Homo sapiens: one gene and its partners. Each later gene encodes a partner of the first gene's protein in a complex. Each region holds a gene or a part of one and is shown in the gene's direction. Other genes may lie near its edges.

Evidence for each region.
Region 2: TAF1B (region 1) and RRN3 share a complex: the UniProt entries of both Homo sapiens proteins name them as parts of the pol I pre-initiation complex.
Region 3: TAF1B (region 1) and POLR1B share a complex: the UniProt entries of both Homo sapiens proteins name them as parts of the pol I pre-initiation complex.

What each region holds. Positions count from the first base shown.
Region 1 is NC_000002.12:9,837,508-9,847,555, forward strand, and holds the start of TAF1B (TATA box-binding protein-associated factor RNA polymerase I subunit B), read left to right. Parts: upstream 1-5,966; 5' UTR 5,967-6,034; coding exon 6,035-6,052; intron 6,053-6,453; exon of another isoform or gene 6,454-6,952; coding exon of another isoform or gene 6,953-6,970; intron 6,971-7,712; coding exon 7,713-7,811; intron 7,812-8,549; exon of another isoform or gene 8,550-8,679; intron 8,680-10,048. UniProt on the Homo sapiens protein: Component of RNA polymerase I core factor complex that acts as a GTF2B/TFIIB-like factor and plays a key role in multiple steps during transcription initiation such as pre-initiation complex (PIC) assembly and postpolymerase recruitment events in polymerase I (Pol I) transcription.
Region 2 is NC_000016.10:15,061,273-15,071,193, reverse strand, and holds part of RRN3 (RNA polymerase I-specific transcription initiation factor RRN3), read left to right. Parts: coding exon 1-73; intron 74-939; coding exon 940-1,124; intron 1,125-2,916; coding exon 2,917-3,025; intron 3,026-5,822; coding exon 5,823-5,975; intron 5,976-7,910; coding exon 7,911-7,998; intron 7,999-9,288; coding exon 9,289-9,450; 3' UTR 9,451-9,921. UniProt on the Homo sapiens protein: Required for efficient transcription initiation by RNA polymerase I (Pol I). Required for the formation of the competent pre-initiation complex (PIC).
Region 3 is NC_000002.12:112,542,544-112,552,464, forward strand, and holds part of POLR1B (DNA-directed RNA polymerase I subunit RPA2), read left to right. Parts: coding exon 1-128; intron 129-3,121; exon of another isoform or gene 3,122-3,379; intron 3,380-4,468; coding exon 4,469-4,636; intron 4,637-4,877; coding exon 4,878-5,024; intron 5,025-6,723; coding exon 6,724-6,856; intron 6,857-8,322; coding exon 8,323-8,459; intron 8,460-9,231; coding exon 9,232-9,455; intron 9,456-9,921. UniProt on the Homo sapiens protein: Catalytic core component of RNA polymerase I (Pol I), a DNA-dependent RNA polymerase which synthesizes ribosomal RNA precursors using the four ribonucleoside triphosphates as substrates.

The sequences.
Region 1 (10,048 bases):
GATAACTATGGCCAAAAGACAAGATGACAAATACTGTCACAAATACCACCGGAAGATGTAGAAAACAGTGTGGAAAATTTAGAAGAGACACATCTTAGAAAAAATTACACTGGTCTGCCATTCAAAGCTTTGCAATGCTGCTGGATAAGATGCAGATGTTTCAAACATGTCTCTGCATGAGAGCTGCTAGATTCTATTTCCACAATGGAACATAGGGAAAAAAAAAAACCACTTGTAATGGGAAGATGCACCAGGAAACACCTATTCTAGACAATAAACCATTTCTTTTTATAAACAACACTTTGTGGTAAAATTGTGTCTGTGTAGCCGGGCGCGGTGGCTCACGCCTGTAATCCCAGCACTCTGGGAGGCCGAGGCAGGTGGATCACGAGGTCAGGAGATCGAGACCATCCTGGCTAGCGTGGTGAAATCCCATCTCTACTAAAAATAGAAAAAATTAGCCGGGTGTGGTGGCGGGTGCCTGTGGTCCCAGCTACTCGGGAGGCTGAGGCAGGAGAATGGCGTGAACCCAGGAGGTGGAGCTTGCAGTGAGCCGAGATCGCGCCACTGCACTCCAGCCTGGGCGACAGAGCGAGACTCCATCTCAAAAAAAAAAAAAAAAAAAAATTGTGTCTGTGTAACCATGAAAGAACCTAGAATACTAGAAGAGCTCTGAGAGAAGACATTGACAGCACCGCGGGGGCAATTCACCCACCGCCTCATCCACCAGCATCAAGTGGCAGCAGAAGTTAAAGGCAGAAGGTGCACACTGCTGGAGTGTGTCAGGATATAGTCAATTTTATGAAGACAAGACTGTGCAGATATAGCGCAGGAATCGCCGTCATCTGGACTGAGCATGAATATCCACAAAAGTCCTGTGTCCCCACAGAAGGCTTTTGGATACCTCATGGCAAAACATTTCAAAGACCTGCCAGACCCACAGATGAGCTAGTTACCTTCTTTTTTAAAAAACAGGAAAGTAAGTATTCCTGGGATGACAAGTAGTTGTCAGTAGTATTGGCAGATATTTTTGAAATGGGGAATACACTTAATTTGTCCCTTCAGGGTAAAGGGAATGTTTTAACAAAGTGAGCATCAGAATGGCTGGGTGTCTTGACTGCCTTATCTTTATATTTATGATTGCAAATGTCAAGTAGGCCCTCATGCTGCTTGCAATTTTTGCTAGATTCCTGATTCCATTCTTCCATTTCCAAGAGTTATTACACCTCTGGTCTCCTCTCAAACTTCCCACAGCCCTCCCCACTCCCACTCTCAACTGATGACTTGCTTCCATTTCAATGAAGCTCAGAGAACAGACCTTCCACCTCATGCACCTGCGCTGTCCCACGTGCTCTCCCTTCTTTCCTGGTTCTGCAGCAGATGAACCCTCTATGCTAGGGCTGACCCCTCCATGGTGCTGCAGATCCTCTCCCTTCTCACGCACTGCATTAGTCTGTTTTCACACTGCTGATAAAGACATACCCGAGACCGGGCAATTTACAAAAGGAGGAGGTTCAAATGGACTTATTCAGTTCCATGTGGCTGGGGAAGCCTCACAATCATGGTGGAAGGCAAGGCCTTGACCTCCTAAAATCCTGGGATTATAGGCATGAGCCACCAAGCCTGATCTAATTTGTACTTGTCTGATAAGTAATGACGTTGCGTACATTTTCATATATTTATTGACCATTTAGCTGTTATCTTTTATGAAATACCTGTTCAAATCTTTTTGCCTATTTTTAACTGGATTGTTTATTATTTCTTAATAGATCGGTAGGAAACCTTTGTTACATGTCTTGTCGAATATGTATTGTGAATTTCTTCTCTCAGTTTTTAGTTTGCTTTAATTATGTCTTTTTTTTTTTAATTTTTTTTAAAGACAGGGTCTCTGTCACCCAGGCTGGAGGGAAGTGTCATGATCACAGCTCACTGCAGCCTTGACTTCCCGGGCTGAAGCAATCCCCCCGACCCAGCCTCCTGAGTAGCTGGAACTACAGGCATGCCCACCACACCCAACTAAGTTTTAAAAAAATTTTGTAGAGATAGGATCTCTCTATGTTGCCCAGGCTGATCTTGAACTTCTGGGCTGAAGCAATCCTCCCACCTCGGCCTCTGAAAGTGCTAGGTTCTAGGCGTGAGCCACTGTGCTCAGCCTAACAATGTCTTCTGATGAATCGAAGTTCTTAATTTAATGAAATCCAGTGTAATGACCTTTTCTCTTAGGAGTAGTGCTTTTTGTGCCCTGTTGATGAAGTCTATTCCACACCAAATCATAAAGATATTTACCACTTTTTTTTTCTAGAAGCTTTATGGTTTTACCTATCACATGTAGGATCTATTTGAATTAATTTTTGTGTACAGTGTGAGAAAGGGGTCAATAATTTTCTCATATGCATGTCTGATTGATTCAGAACCATTTATTGAAAAACTATTCTTTCAGCTCACGCCTATAATCCCAGCACTTTGGGAGGCCGAGGTGGGTGGATCACTAGAGGCTATGAGTTCGAGACCAGCCTGGCCAACATGGCAAAATTCCATCTCTACTAAAAAATACAAAATTAGCCAGGTGTCATGGCACATGCCTGTAGTCCCAGCTACCTCTACTTGGGAAGCTAAGGCCCGAGAATTGCTTGAACCTGAGTGGCAGAGGTTGCAGTGAGCCGCGATTGTGCCATTGCACTCCAGCCTGGGCAACAGAGCAAGACTCTATCTCAAAAAAGAAACAAAGAAAAAGGAGAAAAGCTATTCTTTCCTCACTGAATTTTAGTAGCAGCTTTGTTGTAAATCAGATTATTTTATATGTACTTATGAGTCCGTTTCTGGACTTTCTATTCAGTTCTGTCAATTTTTTGGTCTATCCTTGCATCACACTAGATTACTGTATGATTTATTTTTTTCTCTTTTATTTATTTTTTAAATCTTTATTCTTTTTTCTCTACTTTTTCTTTTAACATTTTTTAATTTTGAGAAAAGGTCTTGCTTTGTCATGTAGGCTGGAATGCAGTGGCGTGACCACAGCTCACTGCAGCCTCAACCGATCCTCCCACCTCAGTCTCCTAGGTACCTGGGACTATTGGACTGTGCCACCACACCCAGCTAATTTTTTAATTTTTTGCAGAAATGAGGTCTCATTATGTTTCCCAGGCTGATCTCAAACTCCTGGGCTTAAGTGTTCTGTCCACCTTGGCCTTCCAAAATGCTGAGATTACAGGCTCGATGTTAAACAAACTTGCATTCCTAGAATAAACCTAACTTGGCTGTGATTTATTATCCTATTTATATATTGCTGAGTACAACAGGATGTACATTCAATTTACTGATGTTTTGTTTGGAACTTTTGCATGTATGTTTATGAGAGGAATTGCTTTTTAATTTTGACTTTTCTTGAAATATCCTTGTCAAGTTTTGGTGTCAAGGTCATGCTTGTCTCCTAAAATGTACTGGTAAATGCTCTTCTTTTTTCATTATTTGGAAGCATCTGTATAAGATGGGTGTTATTTATTTCTTTTTAAAATTATTATTATTATTGAGACAGAGTCTCTCTCTATCAACCAGGCTGGAGTGCAATGGCATGATCTTGGCCCACTGCAACCTCTGCCTCCCAGGTTCAAGCAATTCTTGTGCCTCAGCCTCCCAGGTAGCTAGGATTACAGGCGTGCAACACCATGCCCAGCTAATTTTTGTATTTTTAGTAGAGACGAGGTTTTGTCATGTTGGTCAGGCTGGTCTCGAACTCCTGGCCTCAAATATTCTCCTGCCTCAGCCTCCTAAAGTGGTGGGATTACAGGCGTGAGCCACCATGACTGGCCTATTTCTTTCTTAAAAATTTGGTAGAATTTGGCCAGGCGTGGTGGCTCATGCCTGTAACCCCAGTACTTTGGGAGGCCGAGGTGGGCAGGTCAGGAGTTCAAGATCAGCCTGGCCAATATGGTGAAACTCCATCTCTACTAAAAATACAAAACTTAGCCAGGTGTGGTGGTAGGCGCCTGTAGTCCCAGCTATTTAGGAGGCTGAGGCAGGAGAATTGCTTGAACCTGGGAAGCGGAGGTTGCAGTGGGCTGAGATGGTGCCACTGCACTCCAGACTGGGTGAAAGAGCAAGACTGTCTTAAAAAAAAAAATTGGTGGAATTTTCACATTTATTGGCCTAGAGTTGTTCAGAATATGCCCTTATGATCTTTTTAATGTCTGTGGTATTTGCAGTGATGCCCCTACATATTGGTTAGTGATGCCACTGATATCAGTTTATTTTGATTTTCTTTGCTCCGTTGCTCAGACTGGAGCACAGTGGCCCGATTATAGCTCACTGCAGCCTTGAGCTCAAGCAAACCTCCCGTCTCATCCTCCCAAGTAGCTAGGACTGTAGGTGTGCATCACCAAGCTGGGCTCTTTTCTTTTTGATCAATCTTTCCAGAGTTTATCGAATGTATTAGTATTTTCAAAGAGCTAATGTTAGTTGGTTGAGACTCTCTTCTTAAAAAATATCTTTTAGGCTGGGCGTGGTGGCTCACGCCTGTAATCCTAGCACTTTGGGAGGCCGAGGTGGGCAGATCACTTGAGGTCAGGAGTTCGAGATCAGCCCAGCCAACCTGGTGAAACCCCGTCTCTACTAAAAATACAAAAATTCGCCAGGCGTCGTGGCGCGTGCCTATAATCCCAGCTACTTGGGAGGCTGAGGCAGGAGAATTGCTTGAACCTGGGAGGTGGAGGCTGCACTGAGCTGAGATTGAACCATTGTACTCCAGCCTATAGAGATGAGGACTCAATATGTTGGGCAGGCTGGTCTCCAACTCCCGCCCTCCAGCAATCTGCCCGCCTTCGCCTCCCACAGTGATGGGATTACAGGCACCAGCCACCACAGCAAGCCTTTGTGGAGCCTATCGAAGCTTGCTTTCTCTTTTATTAATTTCTCTTTTTTAAACATTTCCTTCATCCCATTATTTTTCAGTTTAATCTTTTTTCTAACTTCTTGGGATGTACGATTATATCAAAAATCCTCTTCTCAATGAGATCTCTCTTGAACATCACATTTCAGACTGAAATCACCTTGTTGTTCCCATTCTCCTCTCCTCTTTATTTTTCTCCTTGGAACTCACCACCACTTAACATACCACATATTTTCCTTATTTATTTTTGTCTCTCCCCATCAGAATACAATCTCCATGAAGGCAAGGACTTTTGTTTACTTTGTTCACTGCTGAATCCCCAGGACACAAACCAGTTCCTGTTTAATAAATAAAACAAGGAATGAATGTGTTAGATGAAGAAACAATAAGAGCTAAATTTATTGAGCACTTACTGAGACTCAATTATATTCACTCATGCATTTATTTATTCAGTTATTTACTTATGCAGAGAAGGGGTCTCGCTTTGTTGCCCCGGCTGGTCTCCAACTCCTGGCCTCAAGCAATCCTCCCGACTCAGCCTCCCCAGGATTACAGGCGTGAACCAGCACGCCCGGTGGAGACTCAATTATAAGGGGCTCACAGATAACATCTAATTCTTACAGAGGAGTAAACTGAGGCACAAGTAAGCAGGAGAGCCGTGATTAGAAACCTAGGTCTAACTCACAGCCCGTGAGCTTTCCTCCAAGCCCCGAGGCTTCCCCTTAAAAAAGCCAGCAAGGGGCGAGACTCGGAGGGCAGAACCCACGGAGGGCGGAACCCACAGAGGACAGAGCCCGCGCTCGCGAGCACGGCCTTGTCCGACCCCCCGTGCCGCCGGAGGAGCAAGTCTGTCTTGGAATGAATGATCGTCGGAACGGAGCTTGATCAAACCACTCAGCAGTAGGCGTCGCCCACTTTCTTATTGGTTGGTTTTGGTTCTCAAGAGTAGGAAAGTTAGGTAGTCCGCGAGGGGTCTGCGAGCTTTGCGGAGCCTCGCCCCCGAGCGCGCGGTTTCCCTGCCGCGCAGGCGCACGGAATCCTAGGCGCGGATCTCGCGTTTCCGGCCGGAAGCTTCTCCAGCCTTTCCCGGAAGCTGCGCTCGCTACCCGGGTAACGGGTCCCGGCTGTGGAAGCTCCCGCGGCGCCGCGATGGACCTCGAGGAGGCGGTAAGGAGGCGGTGCACCTGGCGGGCCACGATCGCCGGGGCCGGAGGAGAGAGAAGCTGAGGAGGAGCGGCGGAGGACGCCGCGGGTTGGGGCGGCGACGCCACCGGCTGGAGGAAGGCGGGGCGGAGGGCTGCAGGGCGGGCTAAGGACTGGGGCTGGCCGGCCGCATGCGCGCGCGGCTTTGGTAAAGAGGCTGGAGTTTCTGGCTCGGCGAGGTTGTGGGGGAGGGAGGGTGTGGTGTTTGTCGTTATGGGTGTGTTTAAGGATGAAGCTGTGGGTTTTGTGGGGTGGCCACCCACAGGGCTCATCCTCGAGACTGGACCACCCACAAGTTCCCTTTAATGCTGGGGTGGGTGAGGGAGGGGCAGGGGTTGGAACCTGAGATGCCGCCGGGTAACCCCTGTCGGTCTCTCCGGGAATCCTTGCCACTGTCTCCAGCAGGGATTCTAAATTCGGGTTTGGGAACTCCCCAAATTGTCCAGCTATCATTCATCGTAGTGTTAGTACGGGGTCACTGAACACTTTACCAAGTTGCCAAAATTGATTTGGCATGCATTTTGTTTTGTTTTAGGTACTACGTAAAATGGCACATTTTTGTTTTTTATTTTTGAGACAAGATCTCACTTCTTCCCCCAGGCTGGAGTACAGTGGCACGATCACGGCTCACTGCAGCCTCGAATCCTGGGCTCGAGAGATCCTTCCGCCTCAGCCTTCCAATGAGCTAGGGCTACAGACATGCACCACCAAGCCCGGCTAATTTTTTTTTTTTTAATTTTTTGTAGGGGCAGGGGTCTCGCTATGTTGTCCAGACTGGTATTGAACTCCTGGGCTCAGGCGATCTTCCTGCCTCAGCCTCGCAAAGTGCTGGGATTATAGGGGTGATCCCCCGCCCTCGGCCAAATGGCACACGCTTTGATGGTATTAAATGATACTCGATAATTAGATCAATGCTAACAACAAGTCAAACTCCAAAGAGTTGGGGATCAGAGAATTAGGCCTGTATATACAGGAGCAGTACGGTCTTATAGTAGAGGCTTAAAAAATGTTTACTGATGATGGTTGGCTAACTTCTGTAAATGCTAGGCTGATGAAATGAATAATTGTAACTCACCATTAGCTAGCGTATACCCAGACTAGGGATCATGTCTGGTCTGTTTTGCTCACCATTGAATCCCCAGCACCTAGTAAAAAGCCTGGTACACACATAGTTGATACCCCTTATGCTGCCGAGTGAATAAATCGAAACTTGAAACCATTACAAATCTAGTTCCTCTGTGGTATGCGCTTTTAGTGTCCTGGAGGAGTTCCAAATTGTATTTGCATTTTTTAAAAGTCTTCTCTATACTTGTTTGTCATCTTCTCACAGTATTTTCAAGGAGCTTTGTTTACTCATCTTTGGTTCCAGTTTACCCCTACTACCTCCTTTTCTTTTTTTTTCCTGTCACACTGCATATTTCAATAAATTTTCTCCAGTAGTTTAATTCGGTTTCATACCGCGCCTCTCCTTGTTTGCGGATAATCTCTCTGACATATTTTTTATTGTCTATGATTTTTTATTAATAAAGTTGCCAGGAACCCATTAAATAGAACTGCAAGGTTTAGGTACGATGTATTGAATGTGGCTTGATGGGAACACCTTTTCTGTCCTCTTCTCCCATAGGAAGAGTTTAAAGAACGCTGTACTCAGTGTGCTGCTGTCTCATGGGGTCTTACTGATGAAGGCAAATATTATTGCACTTCTTGCCACAATGTTACAGAGGTAAGTAACAAATATCATTTATGAATTTGCTTATGTTTTAAAAATTGCCATTTCAGCCTGATATGTAGTCTAAGTCCCAAAGAATTGGGTTGATTTTTGTCACTCATGCAATGCCAACATTCCAAGGATGCATGTGGTCTTAGGTACTTACACATAGGTTAAGGGATTTGTGAATTAGATTGAGGATGAGTTTTTGAAATTATGTTGGGCCACATTTATAAATGATTTCTTATTCAGAGTATGTGGTTGAGGGAAATAATTAAAATTGTACTTAGAAGATGATGCATTTCTTTTTATCAGTTAGTACTTATTTACATTTTTTTAAATGTGTCATGGTGGCTTAGAGGTTTGGAAGATGGAATGTTAGAAAACTTGAGGACTGGGCCGGGCGCAGTGGCTTACGCCTGTAATCCCAGCACTTTGGGAGGCTAAGGCAGGTGGATCACCTGAGGTCGGGAGTTTGAGACCAGTCTGTCCAACAATGGGAAACTCCGTCTCTACTAAAAATACAACAATTAGCCAGGCGTGGTAGCATGCGCCTGTAGTCCCAGCTACTTGAGAGGCTGAGGCAGGAGAATCGCTTGGACCCAGGAGGCGGAGGTTGCAGTGAGACGAGATCACGCCACTGTACTCCAGCCTGGGCAGCAGAGCAAGACTCTGTCTAAAAAAGAGAAAGAAAGCTTGAGGACTGTTGGGAATATTGGAATTATTCTTCGTTATCCTTTTACCTTTGTATAGTACCTTACAGATTACAAAGTTTTTGGATCCATTATCTCATTTCCTCCTCATCACTAACTGTGAGAGCCTATTGATAGGGCTCAGAAGTTGAGTGAGTTTGCCAAAGTTACCCAAGTACCAGGACTTGAATGTGAGTCTTCTGACTTCAGTGTTCATTTTACCCATCACACCTGCCTCTTAAAGTAGAGATTGTCATATTGTCCTGTGTAACCTTGGTAAACGAGGCTACCTTCACATTGTGAGTGCTAGGTCCTATTGTGGTGAACACACCTTCGGGCCAGCATCACCAAAGTGATCAAGGGTGTAGAGAGTCTGCTGCTGGACAGGCTAAATGTGCCAGGACTCTCCTCAGTGGAAAAGGATTTCCTCAAAGTCTACAGATCCAGGAAGGAACAAATGTTACCTTCACCATACAGGCTTAAGAAAGGCAAATTTGGGACATTAAAAGTAACTGTGTAGACTTCTGCTTCTGGCTAAGATGGACTAACAGAGACCAGACTTACCTTTGTCCCCTAAACAATGAAAAACCTGGACAAAATATATTAAATGAGTAAAAGGAAAAACATTTTCCCTTGACAAAACTGGTGAATTGAGCTTGCAGGTGTGTCACACAAGTGCTTTTCCTTGAGGCAGTGTTCTTGAGTCTGCAGCTGGAATGCTTATCTCTGCTTCCTGTTTAGTCATACAGAATATTAAAAAGATATGTGCTCACTTGATGAAATTGTTGGGGTGATGGAGATATTTATTATCTTGATTATAGTGGTGGTTTCATGGAGATATATTTTGTGTGTGTGTCTGTGTGTGTCAGATTGTGCACCTGACAGATGTGCAGTTTGGTCCTCACCCTCATTGTGTAGTAAGGAGCTAGCAGTTTTACTCACTGTTGCTTTTGTACTATAGTGCAGGTGTAAACCCAGTGAAGAAAGATTATGTCTAATGGAGTATTTGCCATTAGTAGATGAAGTCAGCATACTATTTTTATAGGAATTGAACTACATTAACTAATTGCTTTTCTATTTTTGATTTTGATACTGTTTCCGTTTGATTCTGTTTGATCAAATCTGCTGCAGTCATTTTTTAGTTTGAAAGATCCTAATACTTCTCCCTAGCTCCACATTTGGAAGACTGTCAACTCCTGTGGAGTAATTTGTCAAGAATGTAGAGTTCATGAAGGTGGACAACATCTTTATAAAGACCAAGAACCTAGCTCAGTGCCTTCCTTTCAGACGACAGGCTTAAAGGAAAAAAAAGTTACGTGTTGCACAACTTCAGTAGTTATTCTTGGCTTTATGGCGGTCCAGGCATGTTCTTCACATGGACTGTGAGAATATAATGTGGTAGGGGCTCCCTGGAGCTGAGCAGTGTGGCGATGGTGATGTTGAAATACAGTGGGTGGGGAATGGCAGGTGAGACAGTTACAGCTGTGAAGAATGGAAGTCATGGTGCAACTTGCCCTATTTTTCTGCCCCTTTTATTGCCCCCTCTTCCTTGGCATGTAA
Region 2 (9,921 bases), on another chromosome or scaffold:
CTGCCATCATCAGGCAGGCTGCTGGAAATTATATTGGAAGCTTTTTGGCAAGAGCTAAATTTATTCCTCTTATGTAAGTAGCCTAATTTTCCGAATACTTTTTAATATCATGCTTTAAAAAGAGTATAGCATTGTCTCAAGTCAGAAATATCTCCCATTTTTTTTGGCATGTTTTTAAAGTGAATAAAATCCCTACTCTGTGCAAGATGTTTATATTTCTAAGTGGTGATTTTAGAATAAAGTGTCTCCTTTTTTATATATAAAACCCTGTATGTAAGGCTTTTGTCATCTCTTTTGGTTGCACTTAAAGATCCATTTGTTTTGTGGATAGAGGACAGTGTTGTATACTGTTTTGATTCTTTTTGTAGGTTTGTCATTTTTTCATTTGCATTCCAAATCTATTGTATCTGTTAAAGCTGAAGAAAAACCCTTTTAAAGGTAATAGACCTATCTAGGAGGCCAGTTTCTTCCAGTGGCCCATAAAGATACCTTTGGACAAGGATGCTGTTGAAACCCTTCCCCAACCACAAAATTATTCACCATAGGACTTGACTAGGATGCATCAGGGAATACTGAAGTCCACCAGACTGTCTTTCTCTTGAGAGGTGTTGGTGAACGTGTCCTGTTTGGCCAATCACCTTAAGAGGGGTGCCTTTGAGATGGTTAGGAGAACCTGCTTTCCATCCCTTGGGACGTTCTTAGGGGCTCACCTGTTCCTAGAAGGTCAGAGCTACTCTGCCTTGTAATTGGAAGGTTGTCTTCCTACGCACCCATCCTTATCCTTCCTTTCTTTGCTTTTCCTCTGTACCCATGGGTATTATTTAAAGAAACCTATGAACTTACTTAGCATGGTTTGTAATGAAAGGCAGTTGTGTGTTTTTATGTTATTCTGGTTTTTTTATGATGTGTAAAGTTGACTTGAATTTTTCTTTTCTCTAGTACTGTAAAATCATGCCTAGATCTTTTGGTTAACTGGCTGCACATATACCTTAATAACCAGGATTCGGGAACAAAGGCATTCTGCGATGTTGCTCTCCATGGACCATTTTACTCAGCCTGCCAAGCTGTGTTCTACACCTTTGTTTTTAGACACAAGCAGCTTTTGAGCGGAAACCTGAAAGAAGGTCAGTGTTGTGGGAGTGCTGGACTGGATTTTCCTTGTGTTCTTGTCACCCTTCAGAATGGTGATTCATTACTTTTTTGAGATTTTTATAAAAACTGGATTCAGAAAACTGCATGTGCACTCAAACTTTTAATAATAATTTCAAGCAGCTCATAGGCCCCTACAAACCCCTTAAGATAGATTTGAGCTTGAGAACCCTACAAACCCCTTAAGATGGATTTGAGGTTAAGAAAGAGGTTTCTGCCTTTGAAAGTTTGAAATGTGAAGATGTCTCCAGAGGTGAGGCTGAGCCCTGGGCTGTGCCAGCGCCCTGTACAAAGCTTCAGTTGGATGCACCTTCTCTTTGTTGTCCTTGTAACAGCCCAGTAAATGGCAGGTATTCTCCCTTTACAGACAGCACTAAAGCACAGGAAAGTCATTTTCCCAAGATCACATGGTTAGTGGCAGGATTAGAAAACTGAAGCCAGGTTTGGCTGACCCTAAAGTTTGAGTTTATATAGATTAAACTCTGCCTGAAGCCTTGAGACTTAATTGACCAGTATTGTTTTGCTAATTTCTAAGAGTTACTTATAATTCAAATCTGTCAGTTGAAACTTATTAGATTAGTGTATTTTAGTTGAAGAGAGTCTCCAAGAACAGTGTTTATAAGTCATTGTAAATTGTTCTGTTTATGTTTATGAATAATTCTTATGGTTTTGTGGGTCACTTCCTCTAAACCGGGGTCTCTGAACCCTGCACGATTGCCATTTGGGCTGCATCATCCTTCATCGTCGGGGGCTGTCCTCTGCACTGTAGGATGTTTAACAGCCTCCACCTACTAGCTGCCAACAGCAGTCCCCGACCACCCCCAGCTGTGACAACTAAAAGTGTCTCCAGATACTGCCAGGTGTCCTCTGCGGGGGTCGCAGTCTCCTTGGGTTAACAGCCACAGCTCTAAACTGAAAGTTGTATGTGTTGCATTATATATGTTTACCTACATCCTACATGCTTCTAAAAGATGTTGTATGAACTAGTAGGATGAGGTTTTATCACAAGGTAAGTAAATACAAGCTCTGCTTTTCTTTGTATAAATTAATGCCAGGAATCTGGATTAAATATCTTGTTTTTGTAAGCTGTGACATCCCATTTAGGTAATTTTTATTGAAATACGTATCAAAGAAACTCCTAAGAAAATATACTTAAGTACAAGTTGGTCAGCTTGCCTCTTAAAATAAATGTGATGTCTTTATTTTACTCATGTAGAAAAGAATTATATTCATTAAGTCTAAGAAAGTGGTTTCTGTCTAAATTTGCCGTCCGTTGAGGTAGAAGGCAAATTTGGAGTTTTCTTGTTTAGAAAAAAAACTACAGATGACTACTGTGCACCTGAAAACAGCACTCAGCTTCACTAACAAGACATGCAAGCTAGAATCAAATTGCTGTTTTGTTTTGTTGCCTGTCATGATTGTTAGCTGAAACCAAATCACAAGGTCTTTTCTCCCTCTGTATTATCTCAGCATACACTGAGCTTGCAAACATATGAATTTCACATTGTCGTGGAATCTTACAGCCTGCTACTTCCTAAGTTTTCTTTAGAGAAGCTGCCTTGGTGACCAATGAATGTGGTTAGCCTAGTGATACTCTTCTGGGCCATATACTGTGTGACTATCTGCATGGACCTTTATTTAAAGCATTTCTGCAAATAATTTTTTAAAGTTTTTTTTAAATGTGTGATAATTTGTGCTTTTAAAAGTATCTTACACTTTTCACTTATTTGTACCTTTAAAAAAATCTTTTTTTTTTTTAAACCAAAGGTTTGCAGTATCTTCAGAGTCTGAATTTTGAGCGGATAGTGATGAGCCAGCTAAATCCCCTGAAGATTTGCCTGCCCTCAGTGGTTAACTTTTTTGCTGCAATCACAAAGTAAGTTATTTACGCTTTCTTGATGGGAGTTATTTAAAATATTTTTATTTATGTTTATCTAGTATTGTAAGAGTGTTAAATTTCTATGAAATTAGTAACATTATAAAAGGCCAGGCGTGGTGGCTGACACCTGTAATCTCAACATTTTGGGAGGCTGAGGTGGGAGGATTGCTTGAGGCCAGGAGTTAAAAGACCAGCCTGAGCAACATAGTGAGACCCTATCTCTACAAAAAAATTTTAAAAATTAGCTGGGTGTGGTTGCCTGTGCCTGTAGTCCCAACTACTCAGGAGGCTGAGGTAGGAGGATCACTTGAGCCCAGGAAGTCAAGGATGCAGTGAGCCCTGATTGTACCACTGCACTCCAGTCTGGGCTCCAGAATGAGACCCTGTCTCTTAAACAAACAAAAACAACCCAGTCCTTGCAGGAAATACTGTGATACAGCTATTGTTTTTATACTTTGATGGCGTTGGAAATTACTACTACTTCTTATCCAAAGGGCAGCACTTTGAAATAAGTATGGCAACCAGTAAGCTGAGAGGGGCAAAGCCATAGATGCTTATTAGAGTGACTCCTGTAATAGTAATAGAAATAAACTGGACATGAGGCAAATGTTGACCTGTAAGAGATTGGTTTAGAGAGTTCTGTTCTCTCAGGTCTGGTAGCTATGGCTAATCCATAGCCTTTCCTCTGTGCCAGGCAGTTCTAAGCACTTTACATAGAACTCATTTGATCCTCTAGGATGAAACCCTGTTTATCAACAGGGAGGTGGAGGTACAGAGAGGTGAAATCACTTGCCTAAAGTCATAGAGCTAGACTGGCAGCACAGATTTAAATGTAGTCTGGCTCCTTTGTAAGCTTTCACTAAGTTATTCTGCTTTATGGAGAAAGCGAATTGGAGAATTGAATATTCAATGAGGATATTTAGGCCGGATCATAGCTTAAAATCTTCAACAGATAAGAGCCAACAGCTTGCTGAGCTCCGTCAGCCTCTTTAGTTCTCCTTTGCTAGGCGTCTGGTTCAAGGTGTCCTCTCTTCTGAGTCTCAGTGATAGTAAAGGATTAGGAAAAGGCATAAAGAGACCAATAAGCAACGGCAGTGAGTGGGTGGAGGCTTCAGCACGTTGGTTAAGATGGTGAGCAGCTCAAAGAGTGAGGATGGATGAAGCAAAGCAGAGGCCGCTGCCCCTGGTATGTTCTCGGGGTGGGGACAGAGGACTGCATTTGTGAACCATCTGGTCCAGGGGCTCTCGATTTGGGGTTGGCATGCGCATTGGAGGCACAGAGTGTGATGCGATGTGAGGCTAAGAGCAGGGGATTGAAATAAAAGTCTCTGCCTAGGTACAGATATGGTAAATAAAGGCGTGTACCATTCTGTAGCTGTTGCTTTTGCCTGCTTGATGCTTTTGAGATTGAACCATATTGACACAAAGCTTTATTTTGATTTTAACTGCTGTGTTATGTTCTGGGAATCTTTTTTATTGAGTCTTTGTTGGGATTTCATCTGTTAGTTTTTGTCTTTTTTTTTTTTTTTATTTGAGACAAGGTCTTGCTCTGTCACCCAGGCTGGAGTACAGTGGCGTGATCTTAGCTCACTACAACCACCACCTCCGAGGCTCATGCAGTTCTCCTGCCTCAGCCTCCCGAATAGCTGGGACTACAGGCGCCTGCCACCACGCCCAGCTAATTTTTGTATTTTTAGTAGAGATGGGGTTTCATCATGTTGACCAGGCTGGTCTCAAACTCCTGAGCTCAAGTGAACCGCCTGCCTCAACCTCCCAAAGTGCTGGGATTACAGGTGTGAGCCACCGTGCCCAGCCGGCTGTGTTAGTGTTTTAGTGCTCAGGAACATTCTTGTGTGTGGGCACATGCTTCCTTGTCACACACCCGGAAGTGCGGTCAGCTGCGGGGTTGTAGGAGATGCAGATCTTCAACTTTACCTGATAGTGCAAACCACCCTCCAGTGTGGTTTTGCTGATGTGTCCTCCACCAGGAGGAGGGGTCAAGTGCTGTGAGCCTTGGCTAACAGGACAGAAATCAAAGTATGTGGCTTGAAGTTGCCATGGTGACCTGAGAACCTGAGATGGAGAGTGACAGAAGTGAGATCTGAGTCCTCATCTTGGAGAAGCTGTCCAATAGATAATTTTTCAAGTTGCTCAATCATTTAGAGACAACTACTGGAAAAATTAAAAACATAATTGTCTTTATTTTATGTTTTCTTCTATGCATTTAACTGTTCTCACTCGGCATGCCTAGTCCTTTCTGTGCCTGTTTTTGAGGTCATGACTTAGTCAACCCCGTGTCCCTCCTTCAGTAAAGGCTTATTTCTTTTTCAGTGCTTCTTCAGCAAGTCTCTTCACCAACCACTATTTCCTCCTGAGTAACTCCTGAATCCCTTTACCACCAACCTTCTAATTCTTTTGCAAACAGTAAAAATAAAGACACCTATAGTTACGTAATCTAAGAGTTTTGCCTTGCAAACATTTATTTTTAATGAATAGTATCTATTACTCATTAAAATATAATGAATAATATCTATTACTCATTAAAATATAAGCCCAGTTTCACATTCTGAGTGATAGCCACGTTTTCTTTCTCCTTAGCAAACTTGCAAATAGAAGACCCATAGAACGGTACCCTAAAAGTGTTACTTTCTGCTTTATATTGTTATTTTTACTAGCACTTGTTATATTCAGCAATTTCTCTGTGGTAGGTACAGTTGTCACACGCAGCTCACATCTGCACCGAGTCACTCCAGCATGTTAATGCCTCTGTCTGTGTTGTTTTTTTGTTCCACAGTAAGTACCAGCTCGTCTTCTGCTACACCATCATTGAGAGGAACAATCGCCAGATGCTGCCAGTCATTAGGAGTACCGCTGGAGGAGACTCAGTGCAGATCTGCACAAACCCGCTGGACACCTTCTTCCCCTTTGATCCCTGTGTGCTGAAGAGGTAGGTACTTTTAAACATTGACGCTGGAGGAGGTGGATTTTTTTTTTTTTTTTGAGACGGAGTCTCACTCTGTCGCCCAGGCTGGAGTGCGGTGGTGTGATCTCGGCTTACCGCAAGCTCCGCCTCCCGGGTTCACACCATTCTCCTGACTCAGCCTCCCGAGTAGCTGGGACTACAGGCACCCACTGCCACGCCTGGCTAATTTTTTGTATTTTTAGTAGAGACGGGGTTTGACTGTGTTAGCCGGGATGTTCTCGATCTCCTGACCTCGTGATCCGCCCGCCTCGGCCTCCCAAAGTGCTGGGATTACAGGCGTGAGCCACCGCGCCCGGCCAGGAGGTGGATTTAAACGTGATACATGTTTGCTTTTCCCAAAATTGGGATTTAGGGCTCTTCACCAGAAGTGGCCCTTCCTCGCTGTTGATGAGCATCTCGTGGTCTCCCTGCGTATATTTCACCAGATGCAAAGTAGAGGATGCCTAGCAGGACTTGCCGAGTGGCGCAGGCACCCCAGAGTGGGTAGATCTTTGCCTCACTAGGAGCCAGACTGACATCAAGGGTTTTTTGTTTTTTGTTTTTCTTTAAACTGTTATTTAAACATGTAAGGTTAATGGGGATAATGGTGCCAGGATAGGGGAGGGTGCTGTCTTTTCTTGCTTCATAATTTTCTGCCAAGTGTCTTGTTCCTTCCTCTAGAGACCACATACCATTCTGTTGCACAGGATAAACGAAAAACAAACGATTGGCTGGGCGTAATGGCTCATGCCTGTAATCCCAGCACTTTGGGAGGCTGAGGCGGGCGGATCACTTGAAGTCAGGAGTTCAAGACCAGCCTAGCCAAGATGGTGAAACGCTGTCTTTACTAAAAATACAAAAATTAGCTGGGTGTGGTGGTGGCGCCTGTAATTCCAGCTACTCGGGAGGCTGAGGCAGGAGAATCTCTTGAACCCGGGAGGTGGAGGTTGCAGTGAGCCGAGATTGCACCAATGCACTCCAGCCTGGGCGAGAGAGTGAGACTCTGTCTCAGAAAAACAAAACAAAAAAAAAACAAAAAGCGATTTATCTAGATGAGTTGTTCTAGAAAACCACTGGGCCAGCCTTAACTTGGCACTTGTATAAGGAAGCAGGATTTTTGCTTATTATGGTTTCTAAAATAACTAGCAGCATCATGACCATCTGGGATTGTCTGGTCCCTGAAGTCTTGGTTGACTGAAACCAGATTAGTTGTTTTTCCTAGACTTACTTTTCAGCAAATTACTACAGAAATATAAAAAAGAGAGTTCCAGAATATTACGGTTTCATTTCCATTTGGATATACTGTATCTAACTGACTTGTGAGTCTTTGTAAAGTTTAGAAACAATTTCACATGAAAATGGAAAGATGAAAAACGGTAGTTCAATACTCCATCGACATGAGTGAATGAACTCTTATACAGAAAGAGCCACATTAGTTACAGCATTTACATAGAGGGTTGTTTTTTTGTTTTGTTTTTTTCTTTTTTTTTTTTTTTTTTGAGACAGAGTCTTGCTCTGTCTCCCAGGCTGGAGTGCAGTGGCGCGATCTCGGCTCGCTGCAAGCTCCGTCTCCCAGGTTCAGGCCATTCTGCCTCAGCCTCCCGAGTAGCTGGGACTACAGGTGTCCGCCACCACACCCGGCTAATTTTTTGTATTTTTAGTAGAGATGGGGTTTCACCGTGTTAGCCAGGATGGTCTCGATCTCCTGACCTCATGATCTGCCCACCTCAGCCTCCCAAAGTGCTGGGATTACAGGCGTGAGCCACTGCACCCAGCCAGGTTTTTTTTAAATGTAATTATTTAAGCTGTAGTTTTCACTTCTTGGTTTTGGGTAATAGATCTTGTGAGAAAAGATCCAAACCAATTTTGACTTCTGCCGAAGTATTTAACTTGACTTTGAAATGTGATCTTTGTTGACAGGTCAAAGAAATTCATTGATCCTATTTATCAGGTGTGGGAAGACATGAGTGCTGAAGAGCTACAGGAGTTCAAGAAACCCATGAAAAAGGTCAGTTTGTGATTGATTGAGCACACTCTCGGAATCTCCTTTCTGGTTCCAGGTCACAGTGAGATAGTAAGTGGCAAGTCGTTCGTGCGTGTAATCCCCGCACTTTAGGGGGTCAAGGCCAGAGGATTGCTGGAGACCAGCCTGGGCAACACAGTGACACCCTGTTTCTACAAAAATTTTTTTAATTAGCTGGGCGTGGTGGTGCACACCTGTAATCCCAGCTCCTCTGGAAGCTGAGGTGGGAGGTCAAGGCTGCAGTGAGCTGTAAATGCAGCATGGCACTTCATCCTGGGCAACAGAGCAAGACCCTGTTTTCTTTAAAAAAGCACACCAAAACCGTGTCTTACTCATTCTGCCTTTATAAAATTCCAGGCCCAGGTTTTGTTGTTATTTAAAGAGTCTATGGCTTTTTTGGATAAATTGCTTAAACCAGACACTTCACATACTGACATGTGAGAAGCGAAGGTTAATTACAAATTAGCTGAATGAATTTAGATCTTTGCCACTTGCGCATTCTTACCAAGTAACAATCTCCAGTTGACTCATGTTGAAATTGCCCCAGCAGTTTACATTAGTTTTATAGATCTTCATGAATGGGTGGTGAAGACGCAGGTTGCAACATACCCTCCAGGTCACATGAGGTGGAGCTGAGACAGTTACAGTTAGAGAGGAAAGTTAGAATCCAGTAATAAAGAATTTCGCTGCTCTGTTGCTTGGGAGCACATTTGTTTTCTCATTAAAAGCAGCTTCAAGATGGCTTTTTTGTTGTTGTTTTTAATAAGTAATCATTGGAAAGCCCCTTTCATCTTTTTCTTTATGTTTCATTTGTTGAGGGGCGTGTAATTCATTCACATTGTGTTAGGTACAAGAGTTCCTAACACTGGGCAAGAATGACTCGTCATGTTTCCTGTCCCCATTGAGCTTCAAATCTGTTTGCAAGTCAGACTTGAAACAAATGATTACAATGTGTGATGAGCAGTTATGTGGGTATGTTGGTAAGAAGGAAGTGCTTATCAGAGGGAGCTTTTGTTCTGTTCTGTTTTTCTAGAGACATGGTCTCGCTATGTTGCCCAGGCTGGATTCGGAACTCTTGAGCTCAAGCAGTCCTCCCACCTCCACCTCCTGAGTAGCTGGGACTACAGGCGTGTGCCACTACACTGGCTTTCTTTTGAAATTAAGATATTTTCTTCACCATCTTTACAAACGTTAACACCTTCCTGAGGAAGGAATTGTTGAAAGCTTTTCAGTCAGCACTGGTGATGTTACTGATGATTTCTGATGTTTCTGCAGGACATAGTGGAAGATGAAGATGATGACTTTCTGAAAGGCGAAGTGCCCCAGAATGATACCGTGATTGGGATCACACCAAGCTCCTTTGACACGCATTTCCGAAGTCCTTCAAGTAGTGTGGGCTCCCCACCCGTGTTGTACATGCAACCCAGTCCCCTCTGACGGCAGAAATTTGTGACTGAGATGTGACATTTGGGATTCCCCATCACTTGTCATGCCCTCAGCACCCAGCTTGTGCCATTGGGCATTGATGGCATTGAACTAGAGCGAGTGCCTGCCTCGGCTGTGGCACTTCCAGGTTCGACTGAATCAAGCATCTGAAGACTGGGTTTTTTTGTTGTTGTTGTTCCCCTTACAGACAAAATGAAGACTATCATGTGCAATCTTTTACAGTGGGGTTGATGATACATTTGGAAGGATTTGCTTGTTTAATATGTACATTTTTTGTGTTAACAGCTTTTTGACACAATTACTGGGTAATTTCTAATATAGGCAGCAGACTGTTTTACGGGTTGCTGTTTTAACATGGGTTTTTGTCAGATCCATGGTCTTAGGACTTGACTGATGAGCTTTCAGTGAAGAATCCTCTAAGATAAAACTTCTATTTAAAGACTTTAACTAGAAAGTGTTTAT
Region 3 (9,921 bases), about 100 Mb from region 1:
AGCACTTGACTGACCCCTCTTATGGAATCCCGCGGGAACAGCAAAAGGCAGCGTTGCAGGAGCTGACGCGGGCGCACGTGGAGTCCTTCAACTACGCTGTGCACGAGGGTCTCGGCCTCGCGGTGCAGGTGAGCGCGGCGTCCGCCGGCGCCCTTGCCGCGGCGAGGCCAATCCCAGGGAGGTGGCTGGGAGGTCACAGTATGACCCCAGATGCATGTGCTCCTTGATCCTGACAGGCTTGGTGGGTAAGCGGGAGAGCACAACATGTTAAACAGGACGCGGTACTGGCCTTCGTGAGACTTGGAGTCGAGGCGTCTTAAGAGATGTATTCGTGATTCTGGAGTGAAAAGTGATTGTGAACCGTAGTTTGGACAGTTTCGGGGTGCTGTGAGAGTGAGGAAGTGGCTTATCTGGGGATGTGCTTCACAATGCACACGGCTTTATATCACTTGAAGACTTACCTCTCCAAAACGTACCTCGAAAGATCCCGAACGTATTTGTAGGTACAGTGTAATGTTCAAGGTTATCCTTCAGTTTCCTTCTCTTAGAGCTTTAAAGAGAGAAACTACTCGTCATTTGTTATGAATTAAGCAGGTGCCGAGGAAGGTATAAATGAGTCATGAAAGCAAGATTGAATCGAAAAGTGTAATTGCATTATTAGCGTAGAGTAATGGTAGCAGAATTCAAGTGAGTATGGTGGGGGAAAGCTTCGTTTAGTAAGCATCCCCAGTGTCTCCAGGCACTAGGCTCAGAGGATGTGGAGGAGGCAGTCCCGTGTACGAGACAGTTCATGCATTTAAGTGCTCCCTGTCGTGTTTGGGGGTTGAAGGGGTGAAGATAATGAAAGCAGTGCATGCCAATGTTCTTGAGAACTGCTCTGCCAAGGGATTGTGTGGGCTACTGCGGGAGCCTATGGGCGGCGCAACTAATCCAGGAGTTTGAGAAAGGGCAGGATTAGATGAGTTCAAGAAGTGAGAAACGTGCATTTCGTCCAGGGGAAGAGTAGAGCAGAGTCACATGCTTCGGGGACCCTACCTGTGGTTTTGTTGGGTAAGATTTGTGTTGTGGGAGATAGGGATACAGATAATGTGGAGAGCTTTGATTGCCAGTCTGATTCTTGAACTCTATTCGGCAAATAATATGGGAGCCATTAAGATTTATTGTTTAGAAAGACTAGAGGGGTGGGGGTTATTTGTATTGTGCCTGGATTGTTACAGTATCATGTCTGTGAGAAAAAATTCCTAATTAAAAGTTAATCGGGCTGGGTGCAGTGGCTCACACCTGTAATCCAGGACTTTGGGAGGCCAAGGCAGAAGGATGACTTGAGCCCAGGATTTCAAGACCAGCTTGGATAACATAGTGAAACCCCATCTCCACAAAAATTTAAAAATTAGTGGGGCATGGTGGTGCGCACCCAAGTAGCTGGTCCCAGCTACTCGGGAGGCTGAGGTGGGAGGATAAGTTGAACCCAGGAATTTGAGGCTGCAATGAGCTATGATTGTGCCGCTGCACTCCATCCTCGGTAACAGAGTGAGACCTGTCTTTAAAAAAAAAAAATCCAATTGAGAAATTTTAGAAAAGCACTAATTTAAAAATAAGCCAGTCGGCTGGGTGTGGTGGCTCTTGACTGTAATCCCTGCACTTTGGGAGGTCAAGGCGGGTGGATCACTTGAGGTCAGGAGTTCCAGACCAGCCTGGCCAACCTGGTGAAACCCCATCTCTACTAAAAAATACAAAAATTAGCCGGGCATGGTGGCACATGTCTGTAATCCCAGCTACTCAGGAGGCTGAGGCACGAGAATCGCTTGAACCTGGGAGGCGGAGGTTGCAGTGAGCCAAGATTGCACCACTGCATTCCAGCCTGGGTGACAGAGTGAGACTCTCCCAAAAAAATAAATACATAAATAAATAAACCAATTATATGTTAACATTTTTAAGAAAAATATTTTCCAAAGCAAAAAAGAAGTTAGATGAATTGCATTATTAAAAATCTTTTTAATGTCTGGCTTAATGAAAAGACAGCTGGATTCTCATGTCTGCTTGTGCATTCAGTCCCTTGTGATAATTGTTTTGGTTGAAGTAGATGAAGAAAATTTGGCCCTGCATAGAAAATGATGCCACAACTTAGCTAGGACTATAATAATATAGTATTTGAAAAAGTTCTGTAAAACACAGTAACATAAATAACTAATACTTATAAAGCCAAGGGAAAAAATAGTTATCATATTTTTTACTTACAAAACATAATTTTGCCAAGTTTCTTTGGAGTGAATTCCTCCTTTCTGTGAGTCAGAATTTATGTGTCTGTCTTTTCAAAATACAATTGATTTTTATTACTTGGGGATTCCATATTTGCAAATTCACCTACTCACTAAAATTTACTTCTACTCCAAAAGCACCATGCCCAGAAGCAGCAAAAAAGTTGAGTTGCTCAGTGTCCATTTTCCCAGCTGAGATCTAACAAGGTGATGCTCGGCCTTCTTGTTTTAAGTTCTTAAACTATAAACAGAGGTTGTCTTCACTATCTATTTAGTGCCGTGTTTTGTGCTTTTTGTTGGTGATTTTGCTGTTTAAAATGTCCCCCAAGCAAAGTATTAAAGTATTAAAGTTCTGTATAAAGTTCCTAAGCACAAGAAGGCTGTGCTGTGCCTTTAGGGGAAAATATTAATACATGCATTTAACATAGGCTTTGTTCAGGCATGCGTTAGGGACTCAATAATATATATTAGATAAGCTGTCCTTAAACAGAAACCCACATAATGCAAGGTTGTGTATTGATCAGTGGATGAAATCATAGGCTTTGTTCAGGCATGAGTTACGGACTCAATAATATGTATTAAATAAGCTGTCCTTAAACAGAAACACACATAATACAAGATTGTGTGTTGATCAGTTGATGAAATGTGACCAGAGGCTCGCAGGAAGCTAACCATGTATTTACCCTAGGAGCAGTGGTTCAGTATTGGCTAATTCAGTGTTTATGGCAACTGTATAGAACATAACTATTATGAATAATGACAGTTCACTGTATTTCCTTCTAAATAGTGCAGCTGCGTCTTGAGAAAGCAAATTGTCTAATCTCTCTTTTTTTAACTTCATTCTGTTTTTTTTTTTGAGACAGGATCTCACTTTGTCACCTAGGCTGGAATGCAGTGGCATGGTTATAGCTCACTGCAGCCTCGACCTTCCAGGATCAAGTGATCCTCCCACGTCAACCTCTTGAGTAGCTGGGACCACAGGCGTGCACCACTATGCCCGGCTAATTTTTTTATTTTTATTTTTTGTAGAGACGGGGTCTCCCTATGTGGCCCAGCCTGGTCTCAAACTCCTGAGCTCAAGTAGTCCTCCTCTCTCGGTCTCCCAAATATTGGGATTACAGGTATAAGCCACTGCATCTGGCTTTTATTTTTAAATAAAATATGAATTTCTAAAATAATACCAGCTTTAGATAACATTTTAAAATTTAGAAAAGGTAAGTTAACTCACGTGAAGGTGGAGAACCTCCTTGGTATTCTTTCTTGGTTCCATTTTTTCATTTTCATTATTCTAAGACTAAGTCTAGGAGGTTGCTTGTAATTAATATATAGGAGAGCTTGGTGATGCCCCTTCCTCAGAACAGCAAAGCTTCCCCTACAGAATGGTACAAAGAAGTAACTTCTGTGGAAGGGGAAACCCAGCCTGGCCACCATCTTTTCCTTTGCATGGCTCTGGCTTCAGTTTGACGTTGCCATTGTACATTAAGCATCTAGTCTTAAATCCTAAAGGATGTTTCCGTATCCTTGCTCTATTAGCAGTAGTCCCATTTGTCTTGCTATGCACATAGACAAGTTAAGAATACACAAGGCTCTTGGTTCAGAGAACAGGAATTTTGTTCTGTTCACAGCTGTATCCCTAGAGCCTACTACAGTCTCTGACACATGTGGTCACTCAAAACAATCTTGTACTAATAATGCTTTGTGGTTTTAAGTATTTAGTGAAGTTATGAGTAGACTGGAGGTAGCTTTTTTTTTTTTTTTTTTTTTTTTTTTTTTTTTTTGAGACGGAGTCTCGCTCTGTCGCCCAGGCTGGAGTGCAGTGGCGTGATCTCTGCTCACTGCAGGCTCTGCCTCCCGGGTTCACGCCATTCTCCTGCCTCAGCCTCCCGAGTAGCTGGGACTACAGGCGCCCACCACCACGCCTGGCTAATTTTTTTTGTATTTTTAGTAGAGATGGGGTTTCACCGTGTTAGCCAGGATGGTCTCGATCTCCTGACCTTGTGATCCTCCCACCTCGGCCTCCCAAAGTGCTGAGATTACAGGCGTGAACCACTGCGCCCGGCCAACTGGAGGTAGCCTTAACTGTCCTTTTTAGGTGTGTCATGGTGGCATCACAGGCATCAATGTTTGTAGAACACATAAGATTTGGAAGAGTCTTAGAGAAAAAATGCCTTGGAAATGCAAGCAATTTAATAGTGTGAATTGCATTTCAGGCTATACCTCCCTTTGAATTTGCTTTCAAAGATGAGCGTATCTCTTTTACTATTCTGGATGCTGTTATCAGTCCACCTACAGTTCCAAAAGGGACCATCTGCAAAGAGGCCAATGTTTATCCAGCAGAATGCCGGGGCCGAAGGAGTACCTACCGTGGGAAGTTGACAGTGAGTACTAGTGATACTGTGTGACTCTCAACACTGCACATATTTGGGAGTAGGGCGGGTGCCTAATAAAGTTTATGCCAGAAATTGCTTTCTTGGTGCTATTGTCTAAGAGATCCCACCTTCTAAATCTAAGGCATAAAATAATTTAATTGATCTTCTTCCTCAGTCTTTGAAAATACTCATTTGTTCTCGTAAATGCAGATATTTCTGTTAAGTAACTTTTTCTCTTGTTTTCATTTAGGCTGATATCAACTGGGCAGTGAATGGAATCTCAAAAGGAATCATTAAGCAGTTTCTTGGCTATGTTCCCATCATGGTGAAATCCAAGCTTTGCAACTTACGTAACCTTCCCCCACAAGCCCTCATTGAGCACCATGAGGAGGCAGAGGTAATGACGGGCGTCCAGGCATGAGACAGTAGAGAAGGCCTGGGTTGGGAGTAAGAAGACAAGAAGTGTGTCAGTGTTTTCTTTCTGTGCTCCAATTTCTGGATAGGTGAAAGAGATATCAGTATCTTGCCTGCATACAGTGTATGGCTCTGAATAACTATCAAATTAGACAGTATGAAAAAGTGGCTGTAAAATTAGAGAATATTATTGTTCGGGGGGAAGAACTGGTAGGTTTTTCCCTAATTTTCTGAATGATAGAGACATACTTCCACAAAATTTGTTTTTTTTTTCAAGCTGTCTTAATCCACAAAGCTATTGTCAAAAATGTCTATTTATCTGGGCATGGTGGTGGCATGGATCTGTAGTCCCAGCTAACTGGGAGGCTGAGGCGGGAGCATCAGTTGAGCCCAGGAGGCCTCACTACAGTGAGCCATGATTGTGCCACTGCACTCCAGCCCGGGAGACAGAGTGAGACCCCGTCACTAAAAAAGTGAAATAAAAATGTCTGCTTTGCTAACAGTAAGATTCTGTGCGCATATTAAATGACTTATATGCATTCCCTTCATCATTTCTTTCAGCTATATTAGGTGGCTTTGCAGAGTTGAGTTGAGGTAATCAAGATGAACAAACAGTGCCTACTAAATAGGTAGATGGTGTTATGTGGTGGGAAGAGGGTTTTGGTGTCAGATCTGGGTTTGACACACAGCTCTTCCGCTTATCAGTCTTGTGGTTTGGGGAAGTTAATCTCCCTGAGCCTCAGTTTCCTCTGCTGCAAGTGGGTATAATAGCTACCCCACTCATTGTTATGAGAATTAAATGTTATGATAACATAGAGCACCTACTATAATATGCCTGTTTCATAGTAGGCAATTCGTAAATAGTAGCTGTTTATTACAGAAATGTGATATTGAGCAGAGCTATTAAAAATATTTTTCTATTTAGCTAATCCAAATTTCTGGTTTCCAGAGCTTTCATACAATCAAGTTTTTGAACGTATTTGGGAAACCATACTCGTATGGAAGCAAAATGGTTACAGTTTTTATCTTTCTTTTTTTTTTTTTTTGAGACGGAGTCTCCCTCTCTCACCCAGGTTGGAGCGCAGTGGCGCAATCTTGGCTCACTGCAAGCTCCGCCTCCTGGGTTCAAGCCATTCTCCTGCCTCAGCCTCCCGAGTAGCTGGGACTACAGGCGCCCACTACCACGCCTGGCTAATTTTTTGTATTTTTAGTAGAGACGGGGTTTCACCGTGTTAGCCAGGATGGTCTTGATCTCCTGACCTTGTGATGCTCCTGTCTCGGCCTCCCAAAGTGCTGTGATTACAGGCGTGAGCCACCGCGCCCGGCCCAGTTTTTATCTTTCAACACCTCTTTGGAGTAAGTTTTTTTTAGTGTTATTTGAAGACTGAAGTCATTTTAGGGGACAGAAAGGCAAGATAGGTTGAGCCTGTCTGATAAAGAGAAGTACCCTGTTTTTCTTCCATACTTTTTTCCCATGTCCCTAGGACCTTTGTAATATACTTGAGAAAACTGTTAATTCACACAAAGACAGTGTCTGTGTACTGTTTTCAAGGGATCAGTAGTACATTTCACCTCTGTGTTCCTATTCTGTGTGTTGTACTACCTTTGGCTAGGAGTGAGGTTCATGTTTACAGTTAGTCATGTATCTTTGTTTAACAAGTTGCAATTCATCTTTTTGGCAGGAAATGGGGGGCTATTTTATAATCAATGGCATTGAAAAAGTCATCCGAATGTTGATTATGCCTCGGAGAAATTTTCCCATTGCAATGATAAGACCAAAATGGAAAACCAGAGGGCCTGGTTATACTCAGTATGGTAAGTTCTGGAGATTATTAGAATATTTTTTAAGGAAAATTTAAAACTTTTTTTTTTTTTGAAGTAGATGCATCCAAATGGTCTTTGATATTTTTGTTTCTTTTTTTTTTTTTTTTTGGTAGGGATGGGGTTTCACCACGTTGCCCAGGCTGATCTCGAACTCTTGGGCTCAAGCAGTCCTTCTGCCTCAGCCTCCCAAAGTGCTGAGATTACATGCATGAGCCACCGTGTCTGGTCTTTCTTTTGTTTTTTGTTGTTTTTCTATTGAGCATTCTTGTGTTAAGTTTTCATAATTGGGATGGAAGAAGAAATGGAGAGATGTTAGTCAGAGGATACAGACTTGCAGTTACAAGATGAATAAGTTCTGGGGATCTGATGTACAGCCTGGTGATGATAGTAATACTGTACTGCTTAAAATTGATGAGTACATTTTAAGTGTCTCAACCACACACGCGTGCACACGTACTACAAATGATAACTATGGTGATTGATGTTTTCATCAGTTTGATTGTGGAAATCATTATAATATATGTATATGTATATTCAAGGTATTGTACACCTTGAATATATATGATTTTTATCAATCATAAGCATTTTAAAATTCACTTTTGCTAACTGAAAGAGCATGTGTATTTTTGTTACTACTTATGAAGATGAAAGCTAGTCTGGCTTGGCCATAAGTGGGTGTGGGTCTTGGCTGTCTTCTGGTTCAGGCTGCTGCACTTTTGCAAACTGAAAGAGCATGTGTATTTTTGTTACTACTTATGAAGATGGAAGCTAGTCTGGCTTGGCCATAGGTGAATGTGGGCCTTGGATGTCTTCTGGTTCAGGCCACTGTGGTACACCCCTCAGGGTCTCTGTCTGACAGCCACCTGGCCTCTGTTGGAACATTCTCTTTGACAATGCCTAAGACAGCATGTTGTATTCTTGAGCAACCCTGACAGTTAAACAATTTGTCCTGATAGTTGAGCTAAAAATCAGACCTTAATTATAGCCATACATACTATACCTAGAAAAACAGCATGCCTGAATGTCTAGTGATTTTCTTTTGCATCAGTTGATGGTAGTATGTCTTAGCAGTCTTTGCCTGAAACTGAAATAAAATCTAAAATTCTACTTTTCTCCATTGGAACTATTAGATCAAGCACCATGTCTTGACCAGACTCCACAGTTTAAGGCAGATATAAAGTGCTAAAAGATGTGGACTCTGTCCTGGAGGGAAACTTTGAAGTTTGCTTAAATTCATAGTTTCGGTTATTTTACATTAGTGTTTCTCAATCTGGGTAGATTTTGCATGCAAGAGGACATTTGCTGAGGTTTAGAAACATTTTTGATTGCCAGTCTTGGCTAAACTTAGTGATTTGGCTTTAATTGTGTCTAAGAGGTTAAGATTGTTCAGAAAGAAAATGGTTGAAGCAATTAAGATATCAATGAGTTTCTGATTTTTTTGTTGTTTGGTTCAATAGGAGTTTCAATGCACTGTGTGAGGGAAGAACATTCCGCTGTCAATATGAACCTCCACTACTTGGAAAATGGCACTGTTATGTTGAACTTTATTTACCGAAAAGAACTGTTCTTTCTTCCTTTGGGATTTGCACTTAAGGTATGACTTAATGAATGCATTCTTTTGTTATGAAGAAATTCACTGGGGGTAGTATCCTGTGCACATTGGATGGATTCTCCTTGTTAAAATAATACTGTACTAGTTGTCTACTGCTCCAAAACAAATTACGTCAAAATTCAATAGCTTAAAACTCAATAACATTTCTGTCTCACAGTTTCTGCGGGTCGGGAGTTTGGGAGTGCTTTGGCTGGGCACTTGTGGCCCAGGGTCTCAGGAGGTTGCATGGAGATGTCAGACAGGACTGCAGTCATTTTCAGGACTTCCAAGGTGGCTCACTCACATGGCTGGCAAATCTGCTGGTTGGTGGCAGGAGGTCTCCTCATGGGGTTGCTCTCTACATGGCCCTTTCTGTAGGCTGCTTGAGGCAACTGTCTTCCTCCATATAGTTAGCTGAGAGAACAGAGAGCAGAAGATGCAGAAGGAAAAAGCTGCAGTGCCCTTTGTGATCTAGCCCTGGGAGTCTCCCATTATCTTTTTCACCACATTCTCTTGGTCAAGCAGGCCAGCCTTGATTCGGCATGGGAGGAAACTACACGTTTGTGAACACCAGGAGATGAGGACCCTGGAGGCAATTGTGCTGTCTGGCTATCATACAAAGAATGCTTTATTTTAGAGAGTTTACTTTGATTCAGCAATAGCAGAGTGCTAATTTTCCTTGGGTATTAAAAAAATGAGAGAAGATAATTATTAGTGAATAGATAAAGTATTTTAGTTATTAGTGAGCAATTAAACCTTTTATTTTCTATTCTAGGCACTTGTCAGCTTTTCTGATTATCAGATCTTTCAGGAGCTCATCAAAGGAAAAGAGGATGATTCTTTCCTTAGGAACTCTGTTTCTCAGATGTTAAGGATTGTAATGGAAGAGGGTTGTTCGACACAAAAACAGGTCCTTAACTACCTAGGTGAATGCTTCAGAGTAAAACTCAATGTTCCTGACTGGTACCCAAATGAGCAAGCTGCGGAGTTCCTGTTTAAGTATGTGTGCTTTGTCTAAACTGTTTTTGGAGGGGCGGAGGGCTGTCAGTGGTTCTTTGTATTGGTTGCAGTTTGGGCGGGCGAGTCATTTGGGAATGAGAATGAATCTTGGGGTAGAATCCTGGTCCTTGCTAGCCGGGGGCTACCTTTGTTTTTGCGGCCCTCCTCACTTGTATTTTTTTAGTAGTCGTGTTTTATTTTATAGTACTTTTTAACTTTTATTTTGAAATAATTTCAGACTTCCAGAATAATGTCCAAATAGTACATTGGATTCTAATTGTGAACATTTCATTCATTTACATTTACTTTTTTACTTTCTGTGTACACAGATGTACATTTTTCTTTCTGTACAATCCCTGAAAGTTGCAGGGATTGTATCACTTTATTTCTCCAAAGCAAGGACTTTGTCTTATATAACCACTGTATAATTACTAAAGAAGCCAGCTCCATACTGGTGCTGTCCAGT